Homo sapiens: one gene and its partners. The protein of the gene in region 1 purifies or fractionates together with the protein of each later gene. This does not show direct contact. Each region holds a gene or a part of one and is shown in the gene's direction. Other genes may lie near its edges.

Evidence for each region.
Region 2: the proteins of AZIN1 (region 1) and MSRB3 purify together in Homo sapiens (affinity purification with mass spectrometry, with the first as the bait; one large-scale study listed by BioGRID). This does not show direct contact.
Region 3: the proteins of AZIN1 (region 1) and KLC2 purify together in Homo sapiens (affinity purification with mass spectrometry; 3 studies listed by BioGRID and IntAct, with this or other methods). This does not show direct contact.
Region 4: the proteins of AZIN1 (region 1) and KIF5C purify together in Homo sapiens (affinity purification with mass spectrometry; 2 studies listed by BioGRID and IntAct, with this or other methods). This does not show direct contact.

The regions. Positions count from the first base shown.
Region 1 is NC_000008.11:102,829,664-102,833,163, reverse strand, and holds part of AZIN1 (antizyme inhibitor 1), read left to right. Parts: coding exon 1-108; intron 109-3,227; coding exon 3,228-3,343; intron 3,344-3,500.
Region 2 is NC_000012.12:65,460,183-65,463,682, forward strand, and holds part of MSRB3 (methionine-R-sulfoxide reductase B3 isoform 2 precursor), read left to right. Parts: intron 1-2,972; coding exon 2,973-3,140; 3' UTR 3,141-3,500. UniProt on the Homo sapiens protein: Catalyzes the reduction of free and protein-bound methionine sulfoxide to methionine. Isoform 2 is essential for hearing.
Region 3 is NC_000011.10:66,260,703-66,264,202, forward strand, and holds part of KLC2 (kinesin light chain 2), read left to right. Parts: intron 1-1,022; exon of another isoform or gene 1,023-1,039; coding exon 1,040-1,270; exon of another isoform or gene 1,271-1,310; intron 1,311-1,420; coding exon 1,421-1,490; intron 1,491-2,111; coding exon 2,112-2,334; intron 2,335-2,957; coding exon 2,958-3,045; exon of another isoform or gene 3,046-3,148; coding exon 3,149-3,250; intron 3,251-3,343; coding exon 3,344-3,500. UniProt on the Homo sapiens protein: Kinesin is a microtubule-associated force-producing protein that plays a role in organelle transport. The light chain functions in coupling of cargo to the heavy chain or in the modulation of its ATPase activity.
Region 4 is NC_000002.12:148,878,227-148,881,726, forward strand, and holds part of KIF5C (kinesin heavy chain), read left to right. Parts: intron 1-3,500. UniProt on the Homo sapiens protein: Microtubule-associated force-producing protein that may play a role in organelle transport. Has ATPase activity. Involved in synaptic transmission. Mediates dendritic trafficking of mRNAs.

The DNA.
Region 1 (3,500 bases):
TTAAGATAATTTCAGAACCCGGAAGCTACTATGTGTCTTCTGCATTTACACTCGCAGTTAATATCATAGCAAAGAAAGTTGTTGAAAATGATAAATTTCCCTCTGGAGGTAAGTTATAAAGTTTATAGTTTTATTTTTGTTGGTAGATAATTGCAGTTAGTCTGGAAATGAGCAGATGGTCATGAAGTTGTAGGTGGTTTTCAGCTTTTAAAAATCTTAAAACTGGCCGGGCGTGGTGGCTCACGCCTATAATCCCAGCACTTTGGGAGGCAGAGCCAGGTGGATCACAAGGTCAGGAGTTCGAGACCAGCCTGGCCAATATGGTGGAAACCCCATCTCTACTAAAAATATAAAACTTAGCTGGTCATGGTGGCGCACACCTGTAATCCCGGCTACTCGGGAGGCTGAGGCACAAAAATCGCTTGAATCCGGGAGGCAGAGGTTGCAGTGAGCCAAGATTGTGCCACTGGACTCCAGCCTGGGTGACAAGAGTGAGACTCCGTCTCAAAAAAAAAAAAAATCTTAAAGCCAAGGTCCCATTCCGTAAGACTTCCAAATCCAACTTTCTTGGTACTGATGTTTAGATACGTGTGTTTTAGATAAATGTCTAGCAGATGATTAATTCTCATCCATTATTCAGAACTACTTTTATTGTGATCTTTTCTGTTCTCCTTACCTCACATGGGTCAGAGGGAGGCTCTGTTTTCACACTTTCTCACATAAGGGCCACAAAGAGTCCCTGTAATCTAACTCAAGTCAAACCAACAAAAAGGCACTAGACAGTACCATCTTGTTGGCTAATATTGTAGGAAATACTGTTTTACATTAAGAAGACTTTTTTTTTTGGCTGTGGACTAATCCACAGCCCATAGGAAAGTTGTCCATTTCCCCAATATTGTCTTTTTTTTACAGCTTTGTTTTTCCTTGCTTAGAATCCAGTCCAGGACCACATTGAATTCGTCATTTCTCCTTGAATCTAGATAAAGTTTCTCAGCTCATTACTTTGTATTTTTTAACTTTGACATTTTTGAAGAGTAGAAATTTCATAGCTGATCCTTAGTTTGGGTTTGTTGGATGATTCCTCATGATTAATTTTTTAGGCTATGCATTTGGGGCATGAAGTCCACTAAAGTGTTACTCTGTTCTTCTCACTTCATCATGTTAGGAGGCACATGATAGTGGCCAATTCTAATATTGATGATGCTAGGTGTTTTTTCTTGTTGTTTTGTCGCCCAGGCTGGAGTACAGTGGCTCCATCAGGGCTCATTGCAGTCTCCACCTCCCGGCTTAAGCAGTCCTCCTACCTTCAACCTCTTGCATAGCTGGGACTACAGGCATATGCCACCATGCCTGGCTAGGTTTTTTTCTATTTTTATTTTGTAGAGGGTTTCGTCGTGTTTCTCAGGCTGGTCTCAAACTCCTGAGCTCAAGTGATCCACCTGCCTCAGCCTCCCAAAGTGCTGGGATTACAAACTTGAGTCAATACACCTGGCCTTATGATTTTTTTTTTTTTTTTTTTTTTGAGACTGTTTTGCTCTTGTTGCCCAAGCTGGAATGCAGTGGCATGATCTCAGCTCACTGCAACCTCCACCTCCCAGGTTCAAGCAATTCTCCTGCCTCAGCCTCCCAAGTAGCTGGGATTACAGGTGCGTGCCACCACACCCGGCTAGATTTTTTTTTTTTTTTTTAATTTAAATGCTAGTTTTGAGCACTTGTTTAAGGTTGTGTCAGGCAGGTTTCTTTCCATTGTGAAGTGGCAAGTTTAAATTAGAGACTCTGTAAACTACCTGTTTTTAACCAGATTTTCACCCCATTAGTTTTAGCATCTATTGTTGAATTTCTAACTTCATTATTGTTTATATTAGTTGGCCTTTACTTAAAGAATATCTTTTCCTTCCCTCCTGTTTATGAGTTTAGACTCATAGATCTTTATTCAATAGGTTTATATAATCTGTTACTCTTATTTTTCCCTTGACATGTCTCCATTATTCTCAGAGCAATTCGTTATTTTTTGGTATATCAAGATGTTCCAGGCTCATTTTAACCTTTTAAATGAGCCTCAGTCCCGTAATCAGTTGTTTCTCCAGGGAGCCTTGGTTTGTTTTCGTGGAGAGTGATATTTTAAAAACCTGAAAATTAGTATTGGTTGTGCTAAGAGTAGAGTAGCTGTGAGTAGAATGGGCGTTTTCAAAGGTTTCAAAGTGAGGTGAGAGGATCTATTGATCCCTGAAGCTCGAGGCTGCGGTGACCTGTGATCACGCTACTGCACTGTAGCCTGAGTAACAGTGAGGCCCTGTCTCTACACACACACACAGATTCCCACTGGCAGTGTATACATGTGAGCTCTGGTTGCTCCTCCTGCTCTCTGATGTTTTGTAGTGTCAGTCTTTAAGTTGATCCAGTCAGTAGGTTGGTGGTAATGGTAGTCCATTGTGGTTTTAATTTGCATTTACCTGATGACTAACGATGTAGAGCACTGTTTTCTTTTTCTTTTTCTTTTCTTTTTTTTTTTTGTTTTTGAGACAGGGTTTTTGCTCTGTTATCCAGGCTGGAATGAGTGGCACAATCTCAACTTTTATTTTTAATTCTACATTCAAACACATATTTAACTCCTTGTGCATATATTGCCTTCCCCTTGCTGATTTGAAAAGAAACTAAAAAGTGTTTTTCCTTGCTGCTTCATTTCCTCTTTTTTTGAAACAGCAACTATCAGAAAGTCTTCTAGAATCTTAATACTTTTTTCTTTTTTTTTTTTTTTTTTTGAGACAGGGTCTCATTCTGTCACCCAGGCTGGAGTGCAGTAGCACAGCCTTGGCTCACTGTCTCACTGTCTTACTGTAACCTCCGCCTCCCGGATTCAAGGGATTCTAGTGCCTCAGCCTCCCAAGTAGCTGTGATTACAGGCATGCACCACCACACCTGGCTAATTTTTGTATTTTTAGTAGAGATGGAGTTTTGCCATGTTGTTCAGGCTGATCTTGAACTCCTGACCTCAAGTGATCCTCCCACCTCAGCCTCACAAAGTGCTAGGATTACAGGTATGAGCCACCGCATCCAGCCCTAGAGCACTCTTTTCTTGTGCTCATTGGTTATCTTCCTTTGTGAAATGCGTGCTCTATGTGTCTTTTTAAGTTTAAATAGTTTGAGAAATGTGAAAATTACATTAATTTGTTTCATATGAGCCATTTTATTAAAAATTCATTTTCCCCTTTCCTGTTTTATTCCAGTAGAAAAAACCGGAAGTGATGAACCAGCCTTCATGTATTATATGAATGATGGTGTTTATGGTTCTTTTGCAAGTAAACTGTCTGAGGACTTAAATACCATTCCAGAGGTTCACAAGGCAAGTTTTATCAGAAATATCAAAACCTATTTGGCATTTTATAAGCTGAGCTGTTATTTTTAAGATGCTTCCCAGTTTTTTGAAAAACATCTTAGAATGGGGAAAAATGTCCTTTTTGAGGATTTGCGTTCTTCTGGTGGAGTCCCTTTTTTAGTTT
Region 2 (3,500 bases), on another chromosome or scaffold:
TGTACTGAGAAACCCCAACACATTGCCAGTTGGCTGGGGCCTGGGAGGCAGAGCTTGCAGGCAGCTAAAGAAACAATGCTCCTCTGGCAACTTCCATTTATCCTCCCAGCTTTCCCAAGGCTAGAAGCTGCAAAGAATGGGCTCCGTGCGCGTACTCTCAGGGAGGAGCCTTCAAGGCTTGTGCGCTTTTCAAAGAAACCGGGTAACAGTCCTTTCTGGGAGACTAGGTTTACCTGGGAGGAGGCTCGAATGGCACTGCGTGGTTAGGCTTCCCTCAGACAAATGGCTTTGCCGGCAGTGGGGCGGGGATGTATGTGGTGCCACAGATACAGATGAACACCTTTCTATGTTTTGAGATGATGCTCTTCCCTTAGTAACCTAAGGCTGCTATGACTCTTCCAGAACACCCTGTGGCAAGTATAATGAAGCCATAACTATCATTTTCAGGGGACTCAAACCGTTTCTGAGGATTTTTCTACCCCCATCCTCAACCCATATATTTGTTAGCAAATAGTTTTCATAGTCTTTTTCTAACTATAATTTCTCTTCCTCACTTTTTTTTTTTTTTTTTGCCTTGGATTAGGGACACACCTAGAATCAGTGTTTTCCTTTCTATTTAACCAGAATACTAGTACCAGATTAGCAAATGAAACTACAGGTTGAAAACTCACCCAGTTCAACAGATTCAATTACTGTAATTTGGATTTTTAAAATATGATTTGGGAAATTAAGACCATATAACTCATTCTTAAACACCTTCAAATATATCCTCACTATGCTTTATTTTTGGTGTAGAATAAATAGAAATATTTTCTAAAGATGCTCAAGAGATTATTAGCAAAGGCAATATCATTTATTTTTCCCAGATAGCTGCATTCTCTCATTAAACACACACACACACACCCCTAAGGCTTTTAGGTATATGAAAACTTCATCTCTTAAATGCCAAGTGATCCAAGTGCTGGAGCTGCATCTGAGATCAGTAATTGTGCACACACACTGGTCACTGAGAGCACTGGTTCCTGTTGGACAGCACCTTGACTATTTTGGTAGGCAGAAATGGGTGTTTCCTGTGTCCGTTGGGCAAGCATATGTATTTTTACTGGTTCATCTTAGCTGTGGATGCCTAAAAATTTGGCATCAATTGTTTATAGAAAGGAAAAGCAGTCTGACCTGTCAGCCTTGATATTACCTAAACCTGCATCGAATGTGGTAAAATAATACAAGATTTGTTTTTTAGGCCTGTTTCATATTTTCTAGGCAATAGATCAAATCAGTTCAGGGTTCATTTTTAGCTCTTTAATAAACTGACAGAGTTTGCTGGCAGTGAAATGAGAATGCACTTTTAACATGGAAGTGCCATACAGTCAAAGTTGCTATTTCTGCTATTTATTAATAACTAGGGAATACTTGAGAATTGAGCTTAGCATGTTCAACAGGGAAACTAAGATTCTAGTGCTTTTCATTGTAATGAGCACTTTCTCTCATTTTTCTCTCTTCATCTCCATTTGGTGTCTCATCCCCAGTCCCTTGTGAATTCATACTCTTTCCTTGAAACTTATAAGTGTTTTATACACCAAATCAGCACAGTGAGAATTAACAAATCATTGATATGCTTTTTCTCTCATACTCTTACCTAAATCTTGACTCTTCCCTCTTCTCGAAATGCCCTCCCCTAGAGATACACTTCTTCCAGGTCCTTATTCCAAAGTCACCCCAGGTAGGCCTCTTCTGACCACCCTATCTAACATTTCATATCACCTTCCTTTTTTGCTCCCTTAGCATTGCTTTCTACCTTCCATGCTTTATAGTTCACTTGTTTTCTTGTGTACTGTCTGTCTCTCCCACTAGAATGTAAGCTCTATGAGGCCAGGGATTGTTGCCTGTACTCCAGAGTCTAAAACAGTGCCTGGCATATAGCAGGCACTCCATTAATAAACGAATGAATGGAAGTCATTTACCCCAGGCTTTGGTTTCTTTGATCCATGATAAATGATGGATTTTCACAGCCTGCTTGAATATGGTGCACCAGTGTCTCCATCTCGTTCGCCCCATCCCTGATGGAAAAGGGCAGTAGATATCTAAGTGTGACATGTACCTTCATCTCCTGGAGCTGTACCCAGCATCAACGCAGTTAGTGTAGGGGTGTTCACTGAGCCAGCCTTTTTGGAGAAACTTTCTCTGGGCTTTATTTCTCTCAAACACCAACATGATGTTCCTTCTGCCTCTGTCTAGACCTTAGGTCTCTTCTTCCCCAGCTTTTTGAATAGTCAGTAAAATTGATTTTAGCTAAACAGCTTATTGCTTTTCTTTATATTAGAGTTCATTTGGATAAAGAAGCCAGCATGACACTACTTGTTGGAAGCCAGGAAAAAAACAATTGTGTGTGCTAGAGATGTTTCCTTTTGCTACATTTGCAGCCCTGGTGACTGTGACATAAATCTATTGAGCCTTGCCATTGCTTCGCTGGGTTCCAAGAACATCCAATACTTGTCTGATGTTAAGTTTTACTGCCCATGAAAGCAAACATCACCTCTGTCATGGCCAGTTAAACAGTATCTTTTCAGTGGACTTCTGCATATCTGAAACCCACCCATCCAAAGCCAAAAGTAATGCCGGGGGAAAGATTTTATGCTGCCATGTTTCTTACAAGGGAAGATCAAGGGTCAACTTGATTCATAAAATTACTGCAGTCATTTTTCAGCTGGCTGAGAGACTTCACAGATCAAAAAATACGTGGCTCCTAAATGATTTCTGATATGCACAATTCTAGTGTTTTTTGTTCTCAGCATGTGGCGCAAAGCCTGCCAGAAACCATCTTTGCGGCTATTGACAGGCGGATTAGAAATCATCCACGATGGTTTCCTTCATTTCTCTACAGGCTGGTCATCCATTTAAACTGCTTAATGTGAATTCCTCTCAAAGCCTGCTTTGTACATGCTTTTCCCTGACGTTTTGTTCTTCTCTTTCAGTGTGGTGCTCACCTTGGGCACATTTTTGATGATGGGCCTCGTCCAACTGGGAAAAGATACTGCATAAATTCGGCTGCCTTGTCTTTTACACCTGCGGATAGCAGTGGCACCGCCGAGGGAGGCAGTGGGGTCGCCAGCCCGGCCCAGGCAGACAAAGCGGAGCTCTAGAGTAATGGAGAGTGATGGAAACAAAGTGTACTTAATGCACAGCTTATTAAAAAAATCAAAATTGTTATCTTAATAGATATATTTTTTCAAAAACTATAAGGGCAGTTTTGTGCTATTGATATTTTTTCTTCTTTTGCTTAAACAGAAGCCCTGGCCATCCATGTATTTTGCAATTGACTAGATCAAGAACTGTTTATAGCTTTAGCAAATGGAGACAGCTTTGTGAAACTTCTTCACAAGCCACTTATACCCTTTGGCATTCTTTTCTTTGAGCACATGGCTTCTTTTGCAGTTTTTCCCCCTTTGATTCAGAAGCAGAGGGTTCATGGTCTTCAAACATGAAAATAGAGATCTCCTCTG
Region 3 (3,500 bases), on another chromosome or scaffold:
TCTCCTGCCTCAGCCTCCTGAGTAGCTGGGACTACAGGCACGCGCCACCACACCCAGCTAATTTTTGTATTTTTGGTAGAGATGGGGTTTCACCATGTTGGCCAGGATGGTCTTGAAATCCTGACCTCGTGATCTGTCCGCCTCAGCCTCCTGAAGTGCTAGGATTACAGGCGTGAGCCACCGTGCCTGGCCAAAAAATTTTTTAAATTAGCCAGCTGTGGTGGTGTGCACCCGTAGTCCCAGTTACTCAGGAGGCTGAGGGGGAAGGACCACTTGAGCCTGGAAGGTAGAGGCTGCAGTGAGCTGTGACGGTGCCATAGCCCTTCGGCCCAGGTGACAGAGTGAGACATTGTCTTAAATTAAAAAAAAAAAAAAAAAAGAGAGAGCAAGAAGGGAGGTTGGACCCTAGGCAGGAAGGCAGGAAGAGACTGGAAACTAAGGAAAGGAGTTGCAGAGGCTGGGGAGAGGGGTGGGGGTTGAGGCCAAGGCCTTTGGATACTTTTCCTGCCCCTGTGGCTCCTCATGCCAACTGAGCATTTGGGACACATGCCCCTTCCCTACCTGGGAGCTGCAGAAAGGCAGGGGATGCTGTGGCCCCTCAGCAGAAGTGGGGATGGAGTCTTTGGGTGGTCCTTCAGCCATCTAGCAGAGTTCTGTGGGCAAGCGCTAGCCCTGAGGCAGGGAGCAGTAACCTACTGGCTGTGGCAGCAGAGGCTTGAGTACAACCCAGGGAGAGACGAAGGAAGGGGCTAGTAGCTCAGGGAAAGCACAGCACCCCAACTAGCCCTTTTGGGGTTCTCCTGATCCTAGAAGGAAGGAACTGGGGACTCCCAAGCCTCCTGGGTTTGGGCTTTGCATTATGGTGTGTCGGGGGCCTTGAGGAGATTCTCCCTTGACAAGCAGAGAAAAGACCTGCAGCTCCTCACTGTAGGGCCAGGCCTGGCCCTTCACTGGGTGCCAGAGCCCAACTAGGCCCAGGCTACAGTCATAGGCGAGGGGGTCGACAGGCCTCCGACCCTTACCTGGGCTGGTTGCACAGGTGATCTTGGCATTGTCGAGCCACCTGGGGGCTGTAGAATCAGAGAAGCAGAAGCTGCGGGCGCAGGTGCGGCGTCTGGTGCAGGAGAACCAGTGGCTGCGTGAGGAGCTGGCGGGGACACAGCAGAAGCTGCAGCGCAGTGAGCAGGCCGTGGCCCAGCTCGAGGAGGAGAAGCAGCACTTGCTGTTCATGAGCCAGATCCGCAAGTTGGATGAAGACGCCTCCCCTAACGTGAGCTCCTACCATGGTCACTGTTGCCCAGCAAGGAGGCCTGGGAGCAGGGAGGGGCAGCATGGAGCAGATTCGGCTCCACCCCAGCCCATGGACACCCCGGCTGCCCTGTGCCTCCTTCCCTGATGCTCATCCTGTCTTCCTTCCCAGGAGGAGAAGGGGGACGTCCCCAAAGACACACTGGATGACCTGTTCCCCAATGAGGATGAGCAGAGCCCAGGTGCGGATGGGCAGTTCTGGAGTGGGGGAAGGAAAGGTTGTGTGAACTCTTGGTCCTTGGGACCGAGTGGCTGCCATGTTCCTTCCTGCCTCACTTCTGATCATGACATCCTAGTGTGTTAGAGCTTCAAGAACAGTTGTACGTGCTGCTGCTTCTCACATCCCCCCAGCTCTGTGGTGAGCAGACATCACAATTAGCTGTGGAGTCACCAGCCTGGCTTCCAGTGCTGCTCTGCCACTAGCTTCCCTGACCCTTGGGAGAGTTCTCTTCCTCTCCGAATCACCTCTGAAGGAGGCACATGCAGACAGCCACAATGGGGCCAGTGCCTGCTTTGCTGATGGTACTGGTTATGCATCGGGGCCTCCACTCTGTACACAGGGACACAGGCTCAGAGGTTAGGCAGCTTGCCCCAGGACACAGAGCCTGAAGTACTGGAGCTGGGCCTCTACCCCCTCTTTCTATGGGGTAACTAGACCCATTCTATAAATGGGGAAACTGAGAAAGAGTGGTTAGTGACTTGCCCAGGGCCATGTGTCAAGTGGCTCAAAGGCACAGCTGGCATGTGCCATCCCAGTCCAGTGGGCAGATGGTACATCTGACCTCCTGCCCTTGGCCCTGCAGCCCCTAGCCCAGGAGGAGGGGATGTGTCTGGTCAGCATGGGGGCTACGAGATCCCGGCCCGGCTCCGCACCCTGCACAACCTGGTGATCCAATACGCCTCACAGGGCCGCTACGAGGTAGCTGTGCCACTCTGCAAGCAGGCACTCGAAGACCTGGAGAAGACGTCAGGCCACGACCACCCTGACGTTGCCACCATGCTGAACATCCTGGCACTGGTCTATCGGTGAGGACTCTCTGGGGGTGCCCAAATTCTTCTGGAAGGCTCCAGCCCTGGATCACTAACCCTTGGTGCCTGCTGTGGGCCAGGACTCGTGGCCCACCTGCGTGGAGCTGGGCTACAGATGCAAGTAAAACTGTCTAGTGTAAGAGAGAGGCTTGGCCAGAACTGGGGAGGGACTGCACATGAGGACTCCAGGGGTCCTGGGGAGTCCACACAGCTTCTCCAGGCACCAAGGCTGGAGGAGGGGCTTTGCCAGAAAGTGAGTTTGCCCAAACACAAGAGGGCTAGAAAAGGTTCCCATGGCAAAAAGCCAGCATGAGCAAAGGCACTGGGACCTGGAGAGCAGGACACGCTAAAGGGGCAGCAGGAGAGCCATGTGGCGCCCAGGAATGCTAGGCACCAGGCAGTCGGTGGGACCCCAGCACTGCGCACCCCAGCCAATTGTGAGAAAACTGCCTACAGCCCTTGGAGCTTGGAGAGCAGGAGCTGAGCAGGTCTCCCCACACTCTGGGTCTCACTCTGTCATACACACTCAGTGAGTACAGGAGTGACCACAGGGATTGCAGACCATTGGGGAGGGCCTTGAGCTGGAGGACAGCCCTGACCATGCTCCTACCTGCTCCCAGGGATCAGAACAAGTACAAGGAGGCTGCCCACCTGCTCAATGATGCTCTGGCCATCCGGGAGAAAACACTGGGCAAGGACCACCCAGCCGTGAGTGAGGGTTGGGTGGGAGGTGGGGGCTGTGCCCCATCCCCTGCAGGTCCCAGAGTCCTGCAGGGCCTGAGTCAAGAAGCTTCCGTTCTCCCACCTCCAGGTGGCTGCGACACTAAACAACCTGGCAGTCCTGTATGGCAAGAGGGGCAAGTACAAGGAGGCTGAGCCATTGTGCAAGCGGGCACTGGAGATCCGGGAGAAGGTGGGAACAGGCAGGGCTGGGCAGGCTGGGGGTCTGGGAGGCAGGGGCCCGGGCAGCCCTGAGCCCAACCCCTGGCTCCCTCTCCCATCCCAGGTCCTGGGCAAGTTTCACCCAGATGTGGCCAAGCAGCTCAGCAACCTGGCCCTGCTGTGCCAGAACCAGGGCAAAGCTGAGGAGGTGGAATATTACTATCGGCGGGCACTGGAGATCTATGCTACACGCCTCGGGCCCGATGACCCCAATGTGGCCA
Region 4 (3,500 bases), on another chromosome or scaffold:
CCCTTCCAGTCCCTAAATCCCCCTGCTTCAGGGTAACCATGATTCTCACTTCTGATGCTATTAGTTTTGCTTGTTTCTTTTTAACTTTATATTACATAAAACCATAGAGTATGTTCTCTTTTGTGTGTGGTTTCTTGGGATTAAGTGTTATGCTTGTCAAATTCATCCTCATTGTTTTGTAGTATTCCATGATATGAATATACTACAATTTGTCTACTGACTGTTGATGGATATTTGGATAGTTTCCGGTTTGGGGCTAATATGGCTAGTGCTGCTATGAACATTCGTTTATGTATATTTTGGTGAGTGCATGTACAGAATAGAAGACTGCCAGATACTGAAGGGTTTGGGAGTTGGGTTGGCATGTGCCAGGATCCTTCCCATTCCTAATTGATAATGTGGCACTAAAGGAAATGAGGGTTCTGGCAGTCTGTATCATGCCATATGCAATGAGTAGAATGGTCCCAAGTCAATTCAGTTGGAGCCGGCTGACATGGCTCAGTTGCAAGTGAAAACTGTCTGAGATGTACACAACCTTCCTTAGTTCTAGGGGCACAGACTGTGGATGACCAAAGAAGCCCAGATCATCCAGAAATATGTCACCTTCAAACAGAGACAAGTAAAGAATGAATTTTGGTGGAGTTATCTGTTAGTCCAAATTCAGAATCCCAGAAATTCTTTGTGTTTTTGAAACTGGGGTCATTTTTTCCCTTAAAGTTCTGTTTGTTATGGAGATATATTCCAAGAAAGAGATTTTACAGGTGGAGTTTCTAGATTTCTCTTTTATGAAAATGTCCTGTTTGGGAGAAATGTTCTCCATCACTCCTGCAGTTTTTCAGCTTTGTGCAAAGCTGTCTTTCTCTGACCACACCAGCCACAGTCTTTCCCCACTTTGAACTCCTATAGCATTTGTTTTGTATATGATCTCCCAAGTTTTTTGCCTTGGATTATTATTAGCTTTGGTCATATGCCTAATGACATTGTAAGCCATGTTTAGAGACAAGAACTGTGCATGTTTTGCTCCTTTATACTTCCCAGGGCTTTGTCTGTAGAAGGCACTTAGTAAATATTTATCGATCTCTCTGTGAATTCTGGAAACTTTACTTTGGTATATTTAACATAGTTTACAGAGTTTTTATTGGCCGTAGGCTGTGGGGAGTAGTTAAAAAATAATTTTAAAGATAAGTGCTGTTTCTCTGAGTGGGCCTGGTAAGATAGCATATATAATACTTAAAATGATATAAGAAAATTGGGAAAGAACTGCATTCAGCTTTGGCAAAAATTAGAAGAGCTAAAGATGCTGATGGTGAACTAGAAGTAGAGGGTGGGGGTGGGTAAGTGATTAGAAAAGAGGCTCCCTCCCATAACACATTAATTTTTCAGCAAAAATATTGGATTTACAGCATTTCTCAGAGTACTCCATTAGCTGCTAAAAGTCCTGGTGAGTCATCCATTACTTTGGGTTCTGCCTATTGGTTTTGAAGCAACTGTATTAATGGAAGCTCTCTGACATGGTGAGTTCTCAGTAAAGTTCTTTGAAATGGATTTTCACACTTCACTTTCCTCTTATTGGGCTTTTCTCTTGTTTGCAGTCCTGAGAAAGCAGGTCTTGTTAAAGATGAGTGCTTCCTCCTGAGGGCCTAAGAGCCAGAGCAAAACATCAGCCACAAACCCTAAGCTGGAAAGTGGCCCCAGTCTTCAGAAGCTTAGATTATTTCTTGGCAGTAGATGGATGGGGAAGGGGCCTGGAGACCAAATCCGCGCCTGAGTTAGGATTTTAGAGATTAAGTGAAGAAATACAGCTACACCTTAAAACTTTTCTTCTTTCCACAGTAATGGTCTTCCAAAGCAATAACATTAAAACAATTTTTTCAAATTTACACGCAGTAATACCACTTTTTTTTTTTTCTTTGAGACTGAGTCTTGCTCTGTCACCCAGGCTGGAGTGCAGTGGTGTGACCCTGGCTTATCGCAACCTCTGCCTCCTGGGTTCAAGCAATTCTCCTGCCTCAGCCTCCCAGGTAGCTGGGACTACAGGCGTGTGCCACCACATTCAGCTAATTTTTGTATTTTTAGTAGAGATGGGGTTTCACCATGTTGGCCAGGCTGGTCTTGAACTCCTGACTTCAGGTGATCCACCTGCCTTGGCCTCCCAAAGTGCTGGGATTATAGGCATGAGCCACCATGCTCGGCTTGTTTCCAGTTTGGTATGATTATGAATAAAGCTGCTATAAACCTTTGCATATAGGTTCTGTGTGAGTATACATTTTTATTTCTCTTGGGTAAATATCCAGGAATGGGATTGCTGGGTTGTAAAGTAACCATACGGTTAACTCTGTAAGAAACTGCCAAACTGTTTTCTAAAGTGGTTGTACCAATTTGCATTTCCATCTAAAAGCAGTAACATTTTAAACCAAAGTAAGTTTATTTAGTCACTTTGTCTAAGTGCATTCTAGTCTAGTAGTGTCAGGATGTATCAGTTCTTCATTCCTCTGTGCCCTAAATTCAGAGATGTTTATATCACCTGAAATGGGTTAGTGGTTTCCTTCACATGTACCCTGTGAAATCATGGACTGAGGGAACATCATAGAGAGCTGTAATCTGGCGTGTGTCACTGAGGCCACTCACTATTCACAGTAGGCACACAGTCAGTGAATGGGGTGGGTAGAGGTAGCAGGAAGGGTGAGACAAAACCGAGTGTAGATTCACTAGCTAAAAAAAAACCTAGTTTTTTTTTTTTTTTTTCAAGTTGCTGAGCTTTCCTGGGCATGAGTTTTCTTGTATTGAAAGTGCAGATAATAATTACTTACCTCACAGGGTCATTTGGATGAAATGAAATGAAGTGGTGAGAGAGTGTCTGGCACAGAGAAAATGCTCAATAGGCGCTGATTACCTCCTATGTCTCCTGTTCCCTTGGTGACCTTCCTCATGTCAACATTAGCTTTGGCCCCACAAATTAGTGCCCCTTCTGGCTATCCCCTGAAAACCCTTCTTGCATTACCATTTCTTAGGCATTTGTTCACCCCATTCTCCTGGTTGGAATACCCACTGTTTTCATCTATTTCTGGTATTTCTAACTATCCTTGAAGGCAAAACTCATATTTCATTTAGCTCTAGACTACGTTAGCTGTTCCTTTGTGATCATGCATGTTTGTGTGTGCGTGTGCGTGTGTATATCTTCCCATGTAGCTTTTTCTTTTTCTTTTTTTAATTAAATTTTTGTCTCCTTTACTGTAGTTGTGTAATTGCTTAGTAAATGTATCTTGACTGAAGGTTTTTTTTCCCCCTTTCCCTGCCTGAAATCACGACTCCATAAATGCCAATTTCTGCATTTCTGTAAATAACTTGGGTATCACTGGAGACTTCCCTCTGCCTCACCTGTGCTTGTCTGGCCCGACTCCCCTATTTAATGATGTTTTCCATTCTCAGCTCTTCTTCCCATTCACAGTTGGAAACCTCCCCCTACCTTTGATTTCCCTTTAGTCCTTACCTCTAAATCA